Homo sapiens: one gene and its partners. The protein of the gene in region 3 purifies or fractionates together with the protein of the main gene of each other region. This does not show direct contact. Each region holds a gene or a part of one and is shown on either strand. Other genes may lie near its edges.

Region 1 (3,748 bases), on a different chromosome or scaffold from region 3:
GCTAGGATGGTCTCCATCTCTTGACCTCATGATCCACCCTCCTCGACCTCTCAAAGTGCTGGGATTATAGGCGTGAGCCACCATGTCTAGCTGCTTTTCTTTTTTAATATTGGAATTTGACTCTAATAATTTTATTGTCTGTTTAAAGCAAGTGGACTATTGCTGGATCTTAGAAGTCTTTCAGCTATGTAAAGATTTGTGTAGCACATTTTGACATATACAGTTAACTGCTTAGGGGTTTTGTATCTCTGAAAACCTTTCCATGTAACTACTTTATCTTTGTTGTTTTTCCTTACAGAGTGAGTCTGTAGAACATTTGTAGGGATCTGATATTATAATTTTATCTTCTGTTTTAGATTACTTTGAACATGTAATTGTGATTGTTCCTTTTCTTTTGCAATTATCATCTGGGCCCTTAGTGCTCATTTTTTTCATTTCCAGTTTATTGTTCCACCCCAAACAGCAATTGTTTAAACCTTTTCTTGCTGAGCCTCACCCCTCTTAATTCTTAGTACATTACTTTACCCAGCTATTTGAAGTGCCCTTAACTTCCTTGGTCGATACCAAACATTTTTCTTGTTTCTCCTATGTTCTTCTCTGTTCCATGCTACCTCCCAAATTGTCTCATTCTGCTTGTTCTTTTTCAGTCCTCATCTTCCCCCCAGGACTTGGTGGTATGTCCCCTCTTACTTTTTTTTTTTTTTTTTCAGTTTCCCTTTTTTCTCCTATGCCTATAAGAAAGTTCATATGTCGCGTCATATAAACTTTTCTTTTTTTTGGAGATGGAGTTTCGCTCTTGTTGCCCAGGCTGGAGTGCAGTGGTGTGGATCTCCACTCACTGCAACCTCCGCCTCCCAGGTTCAAGCAATTCTCCTGCCTCAACCTCCTGAGTAGCTGGGATTACAGGCACACGCCACCACACCCAGCTTATTTTTGTATTTTTAGTAGAGACGGGATTTTACCATATTGGCCAGGATGGTCTCAAACTCCTGACCTCAAGCGATCCGCCTACCTCGGCCACCCAAAGTGTTGGGATTACAGGCGTGAGCCACTGCACTCTGCCTCCTCATACAAACTTGTACTCTGCCTCTGCCTCAAACTTCTGTTTCTCACTGTCACAGTTCTTGGAAAAGCAGCCCCCATTTGCTGCCTTTATAATTCTTTGCCCTTTAACTTAATGATATGGCTTACTCTTCTCTCCCACCCAATTGTATAGAACCTGTCAGTCATAAAAGTATTAGCAACCTCCTGATTATCAAATGAGATTCTTCTCTGATAATATTTATCCTCTTTTCTGGTATTATTGCTCATTTCCTCTGCTTCTCTTTTGGTTTTTATGACATTCCCTCCTTGGTCTTCTCTCTCTCAAATCACGTTTGTTTTTCACTGACTTCCCTCCCCTGTCCCCAATAGAATTATTTCTCAGGATTTTATCTTCAGCCCTTTTCTATCTTTGTATATTTTTTTCTGGGACAGTCTTAACTCCCATGATTTCACTATTTTTATCTCTTAGCTCTGATCTGAGCTCTAGATCAAAATGCAGTTCTCACCATATCACTTTCCTGTTCAGATACCTTTGATGATTCAAATTATTTGAGATCTTTCCAGCTGGGTCTTCTCCTGATAACTAGTATTCTCTCTCTCTGTCTCTTGTCTCTCTCTCTCATACATGTGTGCGTACACACTCCTACTTAGCTGGTTACTTGTTGGCTCACTAGCATGCCAGAGGTCGTCATCTCCCTAATAACTAACTCTTAACTTTCATTCTCTCTCCTTCTGATTGGATCTAGTGAGATGGAGGCACAAGAAGGCAGTAGTATATAACCGAACCACAAGATAAATCAAACTTTAAACTGAAATATGATTCATACTACTTTTCTCAGTGGACTTTTTTTTATCCTTTAAGAGGAAAGAAAATGGAAATGTAAAGCAGTGATTCAGAGTGTCTATAGAGGCCGGGCATGGTGGCTCATGCCTGTAATCCCAGCACTTTGGGAGGATGAGGTGAGAGGATTACCTGAGGCCGACCTGGGCAATGTAGCAAGACCCTGTCTCTATAAAACAACAACAATAAAAAGTGCCTGTAAAAGTTATTCATTATTAAAATAACTTTATTGACATCCATATGCAAGGTACCATGGAGAATGCAAAGATATGTAGAACAATGTCCATGCTCTTTGGGAATTTACCATATGCTAAAGGAGAGTAAAAGGTACTAATGATTTATGATAAGGCAAAAGTTTCAGATGTGTTACCAACTGCTCTATGCTCCCTCACAGATTGAGGAAATAATTTCTGGTGGGATGATCAGTGAAAATTTTATGGAGAAAGTGTTGGAGCTGGATTTTGAATAAAGTGTTGGAGCTGGATTTTGAATAATGGGTAAGCTTTTTGTATTGGTAATTAGGAGAAAATTTGGTAGGAATCTAGGCTAGATCAGTGTGGCTGCAGTGTAAGCAGGGCTGCATGCTGTGTTAGATATTCTATATGAATAGTGTTCCTTGGGATTGTTGCAGCATAGAAACCCAGAATACAGGGAAACAACAAGAGGGATAGGAGTGAAAGGGAAGTCGGGTCAGATTACAAAGGGCCTTCAGTGCTAGGCAAGGGGTTTGAAATAAAGTTCTATAGTTACTGAGGAATATTTGAAAAATATGTGGGCAGAGATACTCTCAAGCCCTCAATCTATTTTTGGCTTTTACACATAAATAAAAGTTATTATATTTTCTGTATATTTATAATCTGCTTGTGAGATTGGCCATGGATGAGGGGCATTTGTGCCAGTGACATCTTGTTCATTGAAACCGTAACCATAGCAGGAGTAATTAAGTCTATGGGAAATACATTTATTCATTGAACGAGAATTTAGTATTTCCTAATTCTAACTAGATAATGATGAACTAGGCAGACAGCTCCTGCCCTTGTATAATTTACATTTTTGTTGGGAAGAGAGACAATAAACATAAACAGTGAAATACATACTGTAAGTCAAGTTGTGATAGGTACTATGAATAAAAACAACCAGGGTAAAAGAGAGAGTGCTCGGTGCTCTTATTATTATTATTATTTTTATTTTTATTTTTGAGACGGGGTCTCACTCTCTTGCCCAGGCTGGAGTGCAGTGGCACGATCTTGGCTCACTGCAACCTCCACCTCCTGGGTTCAAGCAATTCTCCTTCCTCAGCCTCCCGAGTAGTTGGGATTACCGGTGACCACCACCATGCTCGGCTGATTTTTGCATTTTTAGTAGAGATGGGGTTTCACCATGTTGGCCAGGCTAGTGTTGAACTCCTGACCTTAAGTGATCCTCCCACCTCAGCCTCCCAAAGTGCTGGGATTACAGGCATGAGCCATCACAGCTGGCTTATTTTTGATAAGATAGTGAGGGAATGCCTCTGAGGAGATAATAGTTGAGGTAAAACCAGAATGAAGCAAGGGAGCAAGTCATGTACATATTTAGAAGAGTTCCTTGTAGAGGGAACAGCCAGTGTGAAAGCACAGAGTCAGGATCATGCTTGGCAAGGAATATGGATGTGATACGAAGATTTGAATATCATCGGTGAATGTGGTTAAGGTGCATAACCAGAGAATTCTTTTTAATATGTCTAGTTAAACATAAATGAGAACCTTATTAAGAACTTGTCAATTTTTCATTGGGTTGATAGAAATTGCCCTCTTGAAACGTATATCTAAGAGGGACATGGGCCTTAGAGCGGCCTTCCCCTCCTTCAGTGTACTGTCCTAGAGA
Region 2 (3,748 bases), on a different chromosome or scaffold from region 3:
GGCTTTGCCCCCACCTGGACCCATCTTATGTAGAGCTTTATCTCCCCCTTCAGCTGAGAGGCGGCGGGGACCCCGCTGTGATGAGGGGACCCCCTCACCCAAGCCCTTTCGCTTGGTCCCAGGCTCCTTGGGCCGCACAGCTGGCTCAGTAGGAAGGGGTCGGGGCCGGTCCCGGGATTCCTCCAGGCCCCCAGAGCGGGAGGCACCTGGCCGAGAGGGCAGGGCCCGGGCCCAGCACAGTGCCAGCTTCCTGTCAGTGCCGCTGTAGGTGACACCAGGAAGTGGGTAGGCCTCTTCCCAGTTGAAGTAGCAGGCCTCCACCGCTGGCCGGAAGCCGGGGAAGAGCCGCTCCAGCGTCTTCTTGTGTTGGCCCCGCTTGACGTTCTCAATCACCTTCAGTTGCCACTGCCGCAGCTGCGTACACAGTTCCCGGCGCCTGTGGGAACAAGGGGCAGGAGGCTGCTGAGGGGCTACTGGGAAAGGATGGGCATGGAGTAGGTGTACACCCCAAAGAGAGGCATGGGGAAAGGATACAGGAAAGTACTTCTTGACCCAGCCCCATAAGCATCACTGAAACACTGGAGAATTTTGAAAAGTGGGTGTTATTTAGGGGAAGGAAGGATGAAAGCCTCTCAGAAAAAGGACTCGTAAATCACTGCTAACACCAGTGCTCAGCACCTCCCGTTTCCCGAGGACTAAAATCATGGTATGTCTCTGCAAACAAGGAGATGAAGGCTCAGTCTGTCCTGAGCTGGCCCAGGCTCAGTTCTGTGGTGAGCCTCAGGGGAGACTCACCGCTGGGGGCTGAGTGCAGGGTCCAGCACGGCCAGCCTCCACAGTGTGACCATCTCGTCACACATGCTGGCACAGGCATGGGCTGCCACCTCTGACTGCCCGTTGCTACGGCCCGTGTGCCCACTGGCACTGCTGTGTGAGGCTGAGGTACGTACGCTATACCACCAACCTGTTATCTGGAGACAAAGAAGGCTGTGAGCTGCACCTGAGAGCTCAGAGAAAGGCAGAGTAGCCCTCCCAGAGTCCATTTCAGCAAGAGGAGGATGAGGCAGGGGGAGGGAAAGAATGAGCTACCACGGGGCTCCCCAACGCTGAGTGATTACCTGTTCATAGGTGAGGCACTGGTCAGTGAGGATTTCCAACAAGGGGGCAGCATTGCTGTCCCTCCGCTTGAACATCTCCCGCACAATGCTTAGCAGGTTCCAGACGCCCTCTGGCTCACGGCCCCTCAGAGGGCGCAGCAGACATGCCCATTCAGCAGCGGCTGGCGGCTCCGTGGAAGACAGATACATGGAGTTCACATCACTGTAAAAGCAGAGGAACAGAAAACCATGACAGTAAGACGGGGCTGAATGAAACCTAAAAGGGCTTCCGGCCCCAAAATACAGAAGATAGAGGGAAAAAGACATCTGTAACAAAATTTTTTTTTTTGAGACCAAGTCTTGCTCTGTCGCCCAGGCTTGAGTGCAATGGCGCGATCTCACCTCACTGCAACCTCCACCTCCCGGGTTCAAGCAATTCTCCTGCCTCAGCCTCCCAAGTAGCTGAGATTACAGGCGCCCGCCACCACGCCTGGCTAATTTTTGTTTTTTTAGTAGAGATGGAGATTCGCCATGTTGGCCAGGCTGGTCTCGAACTCCTGATCTCAGGTGATCTGCCCACGTCAGCCTCCCAAAATGCTGGGATTATAGGTATGAGCCACCGCCCCCAGCCACAAAAACTCTTTAAAAAATCTTTCTCTGTTTCCATTTCCTGATCTATCAAAAGAAGAAAAGGAACTCTTGCTAGGTAAGAGCAGACCACTCTGTGACTGTACAAGGTCATCATCTTCCATCAATTCGTTAGTGACAACTGTGTGCCAGGCACTGTGCCAGTTCAGGGAATAAAAGGTAGGGGTCACAGGCATGAATAGAAGAAAGGATCTGTCATCAGCCTGAGGGACGCTCCCCCTCCACCACAGACACAGGTATGCAGAGATCCGATTTACCTGAAGACCACAGGGGAGGGGCCACAGAACTTGTGCAGTGTCTTTTTGATGTTGTCAGTGAGTGTCGATTCATCCAGATACCAAGTACTCTGGTCCGATGCTGAGGGCCCTGCTGTGGGGTCTGAGGATGACAGGCAGTCAGTCATCTAGAGATAGGGGCCTGGATTTGCCTGACAACAGCAAGCCTTGAGTAAATGGCGCTCTGTACTACAAGCTGGCTTTCTTCCTACTGCCAATCTTTCTCACCACACTCACCCGGAGCTCCACACACTGTATTGATGGCTGTTGACTGGGAAGACAGGAGTTCGTCCAGGAGACGCTGAGCTGTGGGGAGGATCTGAGGGAGAAAGAGACGGAGGCAGGCAGAACACGGCCTAGGTGAACCCATGGAGGCCTGGGCCTAACAGGAAGGCTGTTATGCGGCCTGGCCCGGAGCTAATTGCAGGAGGGGGTGCCGACCTCACCCACCTGCTGAGGGAGCTCACTGATGAGGTACTGAGCAAACTTTTGCAGCTGGTCCCTCTGTAGCCGGGACAGGGACTCTGAGACTGGGGCTCGCAGGCAGACTGCAGAAGCCTGAAGGGGACACAGAGAAAAATGGAACAATCTGAGAACAGGTTTGCTGGAGCTGGAGCTGGGGGACAGAGAGGCAGAGTAGGCGAGGCGAGGGGGCTCACATTGTAGCCAGGCATGCAGCAGAGAAGGGGGGGATGGAGTGTAGGATAGGGCCGGGATAAATTGGGAGGGCCTCACGTTGTGGATGCGGAAGAGACAGAGTGCCACGACGTGGGTGCACCATTTGGCCCCAGCCCCACAGGTACAGCTGCAGGAAGTGACCCGGCAGCGGTCAAACATCACAGCCACGTTGTAGGCCCCTTTAGGAGGGACCATCTGAGGTGGCACCACTGTAGCACTCAGGTGGAACCCTGGGGAGAAATGGGGGCATGGTCAGGGAGTGCTGTCAGGACCTGGGTCTCTGCCCTTGACCCTGGCCCTGCAGTTATTCAGACAACATGCTCCAGCTTCTTGCGGTGTGTTCTTACTTCATAAGCCAGGGGATGGGAGGAGCAGGATGTGCCACATGGCATGATGGCCCACTCACCTATCTGCAATGGGTCCTTCACAGCCCGCATGCGGAAGAGCTGATCCCCTCGCTGAAACTCATCCGCACTGCCATTGGCCAGGCACGAATACAGCCTGGGGGTGAAGAAGAGGACACAGCCACAACTCAGCAAATAACCTTTGGCAGACCCTGTCAGAGACCACAATGCCCTAGGCACTCTCTCCCTAGCCTCATTCCTTCCCCAGGGCGGGGGGTGGGGGGGAGGGAGTGGAATCCCAGGCAATCCCTCCCTTGTCTTCCTCTTACCACTGCCCCAAATACAATGTCTCCTTTGTTCTATGGGAAACCCAGCAGACAGTGTGGAGTATCAGGACCCCGCTCCCCACCATCAGTCCTTTGGCCTCACCGAATGTCCTCTTCATTCTCAGGGAAGCTCCAAAAAGCAATTCGGAGCTGTAGCTGCTCAGGCACTGGTGGGTAAACTTTCTCCACCACTTCAAATGGGATATGAAATGCCACCTGCTTTGCTGACAGCTCCACCAATGGGATCACCAGTCCATCTTTGCAAACAATGGTTGGGATCAGGGGAAAGAGAATAGGAAATGAAAAGGGCCATGGTCTCTTGGCACTCATGCCAGTACAACATCCTGGGCCTCATCTTCACTATGAAAGAAAGAAGAGAC
Region 3 (3,748 bases):
TTTTCATCATTCAAGTCACAATTCAAATGTCACTTCCTCACAGAAGTCTCCTCTGACTTACGTACTAAAAGCAACACATCCTACAGGTATTGTCTTTCACATAACCTTAGTTTCTTTGCAGCACTTACCAATACTAGAAATTATTTTACTTATTTAAGTTCCCCTCTTACTTGAACATCAGCTCTATTGAACACAGATTCAATCACTATAGCCCTAAATGCTAAAACAGGACCTCACAGACAGTTTTCATTTTTATTCCGTCAAATACATCTCTTTTCCTTCATGACTTAAGACTAGTGCTTAGCACAGAATAAATGCTAAAAAAAAAAAAAATTGACTATTACTACTATAATAGTTTGCAATTATTTGTTTGTACAATCTCCCTGCCTAGACTGTGTGACCAAAGACAGAAACCCATTTATTTGGCATTTTACCAAGCCCAGGGGGGCCAGGCACAGTGGCTCAGGCCTGTAATCCCAGCACTTTGGAAGGCCGAGGAGGGCGGATCACCCGAGGTCAGGAGTTCGAGACCAGCCTGGCCAACGTGGTGAAACCCTGCCTCTACTAAAAATACAAAAATTAGGGTGTAGCGGCGCGCGCCTGTAATCCCAACTACTCGGAAGGCTGAGAAAAAGGAGAATCCCTTGAACTCCAGAGGCGGAGGTTGCAGTGAGCCAAGATTATGCCTCTGCACTCCAGCCTGGGTGACAGAGCGAGACTTTGTCTCAAAACAAACAACAACAACAAAAATCCCAGGAGTCTGGATCACATTAAGCATTAATAAGAAGTGCTGAATATAATTAGCGAATAACAATTCTGAAGAAAGTTATCTTCTTTGATACTATGGATTCCTGATGTTAAAAAAAAATTTTTAAGATAGAATATGGGACTGTCCTTCCTGCTTTTTGATTTGGTTCAAATCTGAGGAAGTGGGGGCGACCAGTCTTTAACAGATCTAGCAAGACTGTCGAGCTTTAGGGAATGGTAATTTCTCTAAAGCCAACACTCTATGTCCATTATATTGGAGATCAAAACAGACAATGGCATTTTTTCTAAAGAGGGGGAGGGAAAAACAAAACTTTTTGTCTAATTTGGGGATGCAGTCAGACGTGACTTAGTTCATAAACACACACATTCATCTGGCGCTAAACCTCACATAAGGAACCTTACCAGCTTCCTTGATAAAACAACACCCCAACACTTCAATCTAGAGATGGAGGGTAAAAATGTAGGGTTGTGATGTCTAGCTGCCCATTCCACGAGAGTCGCCCACCACGCCAAATTCGGAGGCTTGCGGTATTCACCTACGGGGAGATGGCGGGCTACCTCACCCCAGGTTTCCCCTAACACAGAGTTGCAGTCGCTGAACAAACTGCCCTGCGTTAGTCAGAAGCTGTTAAGTAACGAGATGGCCACGGTCCACAGCAGAAGAGATGGAGATAAGCCTCAAGCGGGAAAAATGAAGTGTACAAATGCCAAATGCGGAGAAAAAGAAGAAAAGCTGCAAGAAGGCAGGTCAGTCAGGAACACCGCCATTTCTCACATCTCATCGCTACTTCGAATTTTCTCATCTAAGGACCCGCACCCGCACGGTTCACACTGTCTTCTTCCCGCTATCACTCCGTGTGGGTCAAACCTCTGCCTGCCCACTGGAGAGCAGCGGGAATGGCTTCAGGAAGCGGCTGCCGCCTCCGAGACTCACCGACCTGCCGTGCTGCCACTTCTACACCGAAATGGCTGGTCCGAGGCCGCGTCTCCAGAGCTGCGTCCCAGAAGCCCCCGCTTTCGATCCCCACCGCGATGCTGCAGCCGTCCGAAAACGAGAGACGCGCAGGCGACGTCCCGGCCCCCGTAGGCGGACGGCTCCGCGACCCCCGGATGTTGATATGTCGTCTGCCCCGGAAACGGTGACAGGAGGCTCAAGGGGGCGGAGGCGGCGTTGCCGGGCTCTCCGGAAGGAGACGTGGCGGCGGTTGGGCCGGTGATACCCGGGCGCTTTATAGTCCCGCCGCCTCCTCCTCCACCTCCTCCTCCTCCTCCTCTCCTCCTGGAGCAGAGGAGGTTGTGGCGGTGGCTGGAGAAAGCGGCGGCGGAGGATGGAGGAAGGAGGCGGCGGCGTACGGAGTCTGGTCCCGGGCGGGCCGGTGTTACTGGTCCTCTGCGGCCTCCTGGAGGCGTCCGGCGGCGGCCGAGCCCTTCCTCAACTCAGCGATGACATCCCTTTCCGAGTCAACTGGCCCGGCACCGAGTTCTCTCTGGTCAGTGCCCTCACTAACCCCGCAGCCACCCCTCCTCCTGACACTAAGGGTTCGGCCTCTTCCCTCGGTTTTCTTTGCTTTTTCTCCCCAAGACCTTCTCTGCAGACTCTTACCTTCCCCAAGCCAAAGCTGCTTTTATGCAGCGTTCATTCATTCGTTCGTTCTCACGTTATGTGGATGCGTCCCCCTTGCTGAGCATTAGGGATCCAGCAATCACCTGCTCTCCACCTTTTCAATTCTGTCGCACTAGACCTTGCTTCCCAACATTCCCACCCTGCAGAAGCAGCTTTCGTAGAATAACGTCAGGTGCACTTACTCATCTTCCTTTCGGAAAATTAACTGTGGCTCTTACTTCACCAGCAGACTTCTTTCCTTCAGTATTACATGTCACCCTGCCCACACCACAGTACTTCAGACTCGAGTTCCCTCTCTCGTATTCGTTCTCCCTCAGTTGTATACACACACGGACATACGCAAACGCACAGCTCCAAGGGAACTTTTTCCTTTCCTAGTTGTTTCTGAGAGGGCTATTTGGCCTGTGAGATGTTAACGACCCTTTATGCAGAATATCCTTTACAGTTTTCATGTATTACGACTGTTATTTGAGTCCCCAGAACATGAGCTTCTATGTTGAGTTTTCCTGTAGTGAAGAACATTTGTAACCTCGCGGAAATGAAAATTCCCTCTTGGGGGAGTGGACCGCTGAAAAGTCTTCCTGTCCACGTGTACCTACTGCAGGCTAATAAATATTGTACTCTTATGACACTTACCATGTAGTAATTAACTCATTTACTTCAAATTGAAGTCCCGGAAAAAGCAAAATTTTTTTAAACTTTTTATTCCAATTACCTTCAAGCATTCAACTTGCAATACTTTATTATATTCTTTCATTACCATTTCATTGAAACAGTAAGTGACACTATGATGTCAAAACAAGATGTGTCAAGTTAATGGATGTTATTACCACATAGCTTTCTATTTGCAAGTGTTAGGGGTTTTTTGGTTTGGTTTGGTTTGGTTTGGGTTTTTCTGTTTTTGTTTGTTTTTTGAGACAGGGTCTCAGTCTGTTGCCCATTCTGAAGTGCAGTGGTACGGTCACCACTGGCTGCAGCCTCGACCTCCTGGGCTCAAGAGATCTCCTCAGCTTCCCAGTAGCTGGGACTATAGGGAAATCCCACCACTCCTGGCTAATTTTTTTTTTTTTTTCTAGAGGCAGGGTCTCACTATGTTGCCTAGGCTGGTCTCGAACTCCTGGGCTCAAGCAATCCTCGTGCCTGAGCCTCCCAGAATACTGGGATTACATGTGTGAACCAAATGTTCTGAATTTATCTAGGTAAATATTTTTCTGGGACGTCAAATTTCTCTTTGTATTAATGCCACAAAATATTGATACATTGAAATACCTATGTAAAATTTTGTTATGAATCAGATATAACTTTAGCAGGCTTGGAAGAGAATACTTTAATACCTGTTGTTGTATCCAAAGAGCA

Evidence for each region.
Region 1: the proteins of ASB3 (region 3) and CUL5 purify together in Homo sapiens (affinity purification with mass spectrometry; 7 studies listed by BioGRID). This does not show direct contact.
Region 2: the proteins of ASB3 (region 3) and ZSWIM8 purify together in Homo sapiens (affinity purification with mass spectrometry, with the first as the bait; 2 studies listed by BioGRID). This does not show direct contact.

What each region holds. Positions count from the first base shown.
Region 1 is NC_000011.10:108,011,834-108,015,581, forward strand, and holds part of CUL5 (cullin-5), read left to right. Parts: intron 1-3,748. UniProt on the Homo sapiens protein: Core component of multiple cullin-5-RING E3 ubiquitin-protein ligase complexes (ECS complexes, also named CRL5 complexes), which mediate the ubiquitination and subsequent proteasomal degradation of target proteins.
Region 2 is NC_000010.11:73,788,547-73,792,294, reverse strand, and holds part of ZSWIM8 (zinc finger SWIM domain-containing protein 8), read right to left. Parts: intron 3,626-3,748; coding exon 3,472-3,625; intron 3,200-3,471; coding exon 3,105-3,199; intron 2,929-3,104; coding exon 2,756-2,928; intron 2,579-2,755; coding exon 2,471-2,578; intron 2,340-2,470; coding exon 2,258-2,339; intron 2,124-2,257; coding exon 2,003-2,123; intron 1,321-2,002; coding exon 1,119-1,320; intron 972-1,118; coding exon 796-971; intron 437-795; coding exon 1-436. UniProt on the Homo sapiens protein: Substrate recognition component of a SCF-like E3 ubiquitin-protein ligase complex that promotes target-directed microRNA degradation (TDMD), a process that mediates degradation of microRNAs (miRNAs).
Region 3 is NC_000002.12:53,785,115-53,788,862, forward strand, and holds the start of ASB3 (ankyrin repeat and SOCS box protein 3), read right to left. Parts: upstream 1,840-3,748; 5' UTR 1,707-1,839; exon of another isoform or gene 1,171-1,706; intron 1-1,170. Other genes in the region: ERLEC1 (endoplasmic reticulum lectin 1 isoform 1 precursor), read left to right, coding at 2,097-2,258. UniProt on the Homo sapiens protein: Probable substrate-recognition component of a SCF-like ECS (Elongin-Cullin-SOCS-box protein) E3 ubiquitin-protein ligase complex which mediates the ubiquitination and subsequent proteasomal degradation of target proteins. Recognizes TNFRSF1B.